2 separate regions of the Homo sapiens genome follow, and region 2 is linked to region 1. A link means that fine-mapping ties the variant in region 1 to the expression of a gene that starts in the linked region. Tissue or cell type: monocytes after LPS. Region 1 holds a variant in brackets; the other region holds the start of a gene. All regions are shown on one strand. Distances are between the middles of the regions.

What was found. PIP is the estimated chance that this variant, and not a neighbour inherited with it, causes the effect.
Region 2: USP12 starts here. The variant in region 1 is fine-mapped to the expression of USP12 in monocytes after LPS (Kim-Hellmuth 2017, PIP 0.95).

The regions. Positions count from the first base shown.
Region 1 is chr13:27,074,927-27,077,611 of GRCh38, reverse strand. It overlaps USP12 (ubiquitin specific peptidase 12), which reads left to right. Exons shown (of 9, transcript NM_182488.4): 7 at 2,224-2,421. It also overlaps the pseudogene RBBP8P2. Among named protein-coding and RNA genes, the nearest start is that of USP12-AS1, 49 kb to the left of the region's middle. The variant G/TG (reference allele first, on the strand shown) is at 1,583.
Region 2 is chr13:27,170,391-27,173,075 of GRCh38, reverse strand. USP12 (ubiquitin specific peptidase 12) reads left to right here and starts at 1,265. Exons shown (of 9, transcript NM_182488.4): 1 at 1,265-1,484. The coding sequence starts at 1,437. It overlaps USP12-DT (USP12 divergent transcript), which reads right to left and starts at 817. Exons shown (of 2, transcript NR_046548.1): 1 at 704-817. RefSeq lists enhancers at 489-678, 2,179-2,288 and silencers at 739-1,378, 1,519-1,568, 1,629-1,718, 1,789-1,858, 1,889-1,938.

The sequences.
Region 1 (2,685 bases):
TTGACAATTCCATGGGTAGTTGGTTTCTTTGTGGTAGCCAGCACTTCTCCTCTGGGAGGATCTTTGGCAAATAGGATTCATATTCTTCATGTGTTATCTTATTAAACATATTGTATCTGCTATTATTGAGATATTTTCTCTTTTCTGCATTTGGACTCCTCCCCTTGTGTAATTTCTAAAAGCACATTTTCCCTAACCATCGGGCCATGTTCATTCTCTTTCCTCCTCCTAATCTTACCTGACTGCCATTTATTAATAGTGCACTGACACTCATTTTATGCTCAGAAAATTCTTCTTTTGCATCTACCATCCATTGGAAATTCTCAAAGGATACCTTGTTGTTTTGTAAAGATTTCTTTTCAGTAACTCTATGTGGGTTTAATAAAAGGTCTGATGTTTCATAGTTGAATTATATTTTATGTATAATTTTATATCCTGACTTCTTAAGTATTTTCTTATGTCACCTAGAAACTTTCATCAGCATTGTTTTATTTAAGTTGTACAACACTCGGTTATGTTTGAATTCTAATTTATTTCCACATTTCCTGTTGCTGAATAGTTGGGATTTTTTACAATGTAAAAGAACTCTAATAGGAGATTATTCTCATAAGGGATGTTTTTGAGATTATACATTTAATTGTATTTCCAGAAATAGGATTACTGAGACAAAGGCCATAAAGGCTCCTAATTTATATTGGTGGATTGCTTTCTAGGAGTGACTAGGTGTTTACCTTTACTTTGGCTAATGTTTCCAAAAGGCCAAGTTCATTCACTAGTAAGTAATTTAGGAATAATAAGCTATCCACCATATTTAAGAAGTGTAGAATGCAGATTTAGTATAATGTTATAAAATGATTTTTTTTTTCACTTATTAGAGGCAGTGGCTTACCATATATCACTTCTTTAAATTGTGAGGAGTATTTTGCTTCACCAGACCCATTTAAAATTCAGTTCTGCAGCATTTGGCATCTATCATATGTCAGGCATGTTGCTAGATAGTGGGGAAATAAAAATGAAGGGAATGCTTTCTAGCTGCCAAGAGTTCAGGGCCTAGAAGAAAAGAACCATAATCACCTAAAATTGTTACCATGTAATAAGCTTGACATATATAAAGTGAACCTGTAAGGTGCTGATGGAGGATTGAAGAGAGCAGGTGTATTTGTGCCAGAGGGTGTGACATTTGAGCTGAGCCATTAAAAGAAGAATAGATTTTTAGGTGAAGTAGGAGTACAAAGGCACTCTCAGGGAGAAATGGCATTTAAAGGCATAATAAAGATTGTTTAGAACATGAAGAACAGCCTGTGTTTCACAGTTAAAAACTTAACTCCTAAGTTTCCAGGTTATTTTACTCCCTTTCTAGGATATACATTGTCATTTTTCTTAATATGGAGTTATTTCTTGTCTCTGACAAGCACCTTGATTGGTCTTTAGTGCTTTTATTGTTTTAGTCTCCTATTGTCAGTCTGTACCTGCATCATATAGATTGATAGAAAAAATAGATTTCAGTCTACCCAAGTCCAAAGGAATTGTCAGTTTCAAGAAACTTGTTTTCCCTCTACCACTCTTTTTTTTTTTTTTTTTT[G/TG]AGACGGAGCCTTGCTCTGTCACCCAGGCTGGAGTGCAGTGGCGTGATCTCAGCTCACTGCAACCTCCGCCTCCTGGGTTCAAGCGATTCTCCTGCCCCAGCTTCCCGAGTAGCTGGGACTATGGGCGCCTGCCACTATGCCCGGCTATTTTTTGTATTTTTAGTAGAGACAGGGTTTCACCATGTTAGCCAGGCTGGTCTTGAACTCATGACCTCAGGTGATCCACCTGCCTCGGCCTCCCAAAGTGTTGGGATTACAGGCGTGAGCCACCGCGCCTGGCCTTCCCTCTACCACTCTTGAGCACCCCGTGCATTTAGCCTTATTATAAGAGACGTGTGTTTGAAAAATACAGATTCCTTAACCAAGGACTAACGCCATTCCATCTGTTTTGGAGCCATATTGAGTGCTGTGTCAAATTATGTGGTGTGACAATGATGGGTAGGGTGGGGTCATATTAAGATGTTCAGAATGTTGTTTTGTCAGTATAAAAATAATTGATAGAAATGTGCAAAACTGGGCATTGCTGGGCTATTAAAACTGACCATTGTCTATCTGTTCATTGGATATCGTAAAGTTTGATAATTCAAGGACATGGTGGATATCTTTTATGAAATTTTGTTTTCATTTTTATTTTTAATAGGATGAAAGTTAAAAAACTGCCCATGATTCTAGCTCTACACCTGAAGAGATTTAAATATATGGATCAACTTCATCGATATACAAAACTCTCTTACCGGGTAGTTTTTCCTTTAGAACTTCGTCTGTTTAACACTTCAGGTGATGCCACCAATCCAGACAGAATGTACGACCTTGTTGCTGTTGTGGTTCACTGTGGAAGGTAATTGCAACTCCGGGGACATAGTAGTGGAATTCCTAGGTTAGAAGAGCAGGGTACATTCAAGATGTTCATGAATTATTCATATATAGAACTTTTAGAAATTCTGTATTCTCTCAAGATAATTTTATTTCAAAATGGAGTTTTAGCTTTATGTTTTATCATTTCTTAAAAATTTTATATGTTAAAATATATTGTTTTTATTTTTATTATTTATTACTCTACAAGTACTATATCTGATTTCCTAGAACTTTGAGATCTGTTAGT
Region 2 (2,685 bases), 95 kb before region 1:
TCACTATGGAAACAGTATTCATGTACCAGAAGTCTATTTTTCACTTAAATTTTGTTTGAATGCTTTTTGTTTTTGAGTGCTTTGAACCCTTGAGGTGAGGCATTTCTGATTTTACAGCTCTGCCTGAATTCAGATCCTCAACCCCACTGAATTAGGGGAACCCAGAAAAGTACCCCATCACGAGTTCAATCAGAAAATATCACAAGCTTTCTAACATAATAATTTATGAAGTTATTCTACTCACTTGAACTACTTTCTCAAATAGGAAAAAATAAAGCTGAGCTGCCAGGCATGAAGAACAGGGTGCAAATATGAATTTTATAAAAGGAGAAAGAGGAACTACCCATGCCAGTAGCCAGCACTGCCTAAGGATTTCTCACAGGGCATTTTTCTTGCTTGCGGGCTTCCTGTCTCTGGTAATATCATCATCACTGCTGGCTTGAGATCCTCCCTATTTTGCAGCTCAATGTGCAGATATTTAGAAGCCTATTATAAATTTATCGCCAACAGGCCAACAGGTTTCGCTCCTCTCCTTCCCCCATTACTTATCTTTCTTCTTAATTCAAAGAGTTAAACATGTGTAATTTGTTCTTTGCCTCTTCATTTTTGTTTAATTATTTTGTCTTTTTCTAAGTTGTGTTTGACTCCGGTGATTCATCCAATATACGTAAAAAGAAACAAACCAAGTGCTTGGGACGCATACCCGGGTTATCTTAACTGTGCAGAGCAGGTTTCCTCCCACTCCGCCCGTAGTTACCCAGATCATCGCCTCCGTTTTCTGTTTAGGCAGCGGGGGCTCGCCGTCCCCTCGCCCGCGGTGGGTGTCGCAGCTGGTCCCCTCCAGGGTTCTCCCAGATCGCCGCCGCCACCCCCGCGCCTCCCCGCCGCACCCCTTCCTACGCGGGGGTCTCTGGGTCCCCGGCTCTAGGACCGCAGGGACGCGGGCAGGAGGTGGCGCCCGCCTTCGGTCCTGCCCTCTGCCGCGCGCGGGGTGGGGACGGACCGGAGTTCCCCGGCTCGCGCACAAGGGCCGCGGAGGGGTTGCCGAGGGGTGGGCGGGGCTGCGCCGCCTGGCCGCGCCGCTGCCTGGCAGGCCGGGCATTAGGGCCTCGGCGGAGCCCGCTCCCCTGTGCGCTGGGCGGGGTGGGCGGAGGGCGGCTTCGCGTGCAGGCGCGGGCCCGGAGGCAGCGGCTGCGCCCTGCGCCGGGGCGGAGCCGGGGGCGGGCCGGCGGCCGGCAGGCGGGGGCTGGGGCCCGAGGCCGGGAGTGCCTGAGCGCCGGCGGCGACGACGGCAGCGGCGGCCCAGCGGGCTCGGTGGTTGGGTCCGCGGCGGCTCGGGGTCCGCCCGCGGGCTGCGGTGCGAGCGGGCGGCCCGGCTCCCCTCCTCCCCCGCCCGCCGCCGCCGCTGTGATTGGGTGGAAGATGGCGCTGGCCGGATGGAAATCCTAATGACAGTCTCCAAATTCGCCTCCATCTGTACCATGGTAGGTGGCGGCGAGCGGGCGGCCGGGGCTGCCGGGACCTCTCGGGCGGGCGGGCGGCGCTGGACCCGCCTCTCCCAGTGGCCGCTCGCGGGGCCTAGCGCCGGGGCGGGCGGGCGGGCTGGGCGGCCCGGGCGGCCCGGGCGGGGGCGGTTGGACGGCGCGCAGGCGGGGAGCGCGGGGGTGAGCGGCCCAGGCGGCTGGGGAGGGGGCGCCGCCTGGTGGGCCAGGGCGGCGCGAGGGTAGCGGTGAGTGGGCGACCGTGCCAGACGCGGCGTCGGGCGGGCACCGGCCTCCGGGAGTCCCCGGCTGAACTGCTGGGGTCCGCTCGGGACGCGGGGACGAGGGCCGAGGCGCGCCCGGCCTGTGCCGGGGTGAGGGGTGGGCGCGCGCGAGCCAGAGCGCGGCCCCGGGCCGGGGTCGTCGGGGAGGGGGCGCGGAGCCGCGCGGGCTCCATTTCCTTCTGGTCGCGCGCCGAGCGGGAGGGGTCCCCGGGAGGGGTGGGGGTCGGCGGGCAGGAAGGAAGGGTCTCGGCCGGGGCGGGCAGCGCTCATTCCCGCCTGGGAGAGGACGGAAGTCAAGTGCAGATTTCCTCGCGCCGCTGGCTGGGCCGAGTCCCCGACCCCGCGCTGGGGGAAAGGGGCGTGTGTGAAGGTGGAAACTTTAAATAAGTACTGTTGAAATTCTCTCCATTTTCTCCTCTGAGAGGCACGAGCTCTCCCGTTTCCAGCCGTGTGTCCAGGTGGCAGTCTTGTCTCTGGGAATGCACGTTAATCTTGAAAAGCAGCATTAGCTTTCCTGTCATTTGTTTACTTCAGCCCACCAGACACATCTGTATGTGGCTGGAGCTAGGTCTGTCTGTGCGGGGACCGCCTGCCAAGGCGATGGTATTTGTTTTCCTAGGGCGTTTAAATAGACTGTAAGGGAAAAGTGCTAATGCCCGCTGGAAGTCCCGAATTAAGCAAAACGTGGGCGCGTTTAAAACTTGGTGTTTTGTGCGTGGCCAGAAGGACCACAGTTTTCCACATGATGAGACAAATTCGTTTCATTAGTTCCTCATGAGCTTATATGTAGGGATCATAATTTATGAGTCATCACCGAAAAAAGTTGTTCTTTGCAACGTGGGCCTAGTGGTTGTTATTAGAGACTTCTGAAATCTTGTGTTTCATGCCTCACTGGCCCTATTTATGCAACTGATTTCATA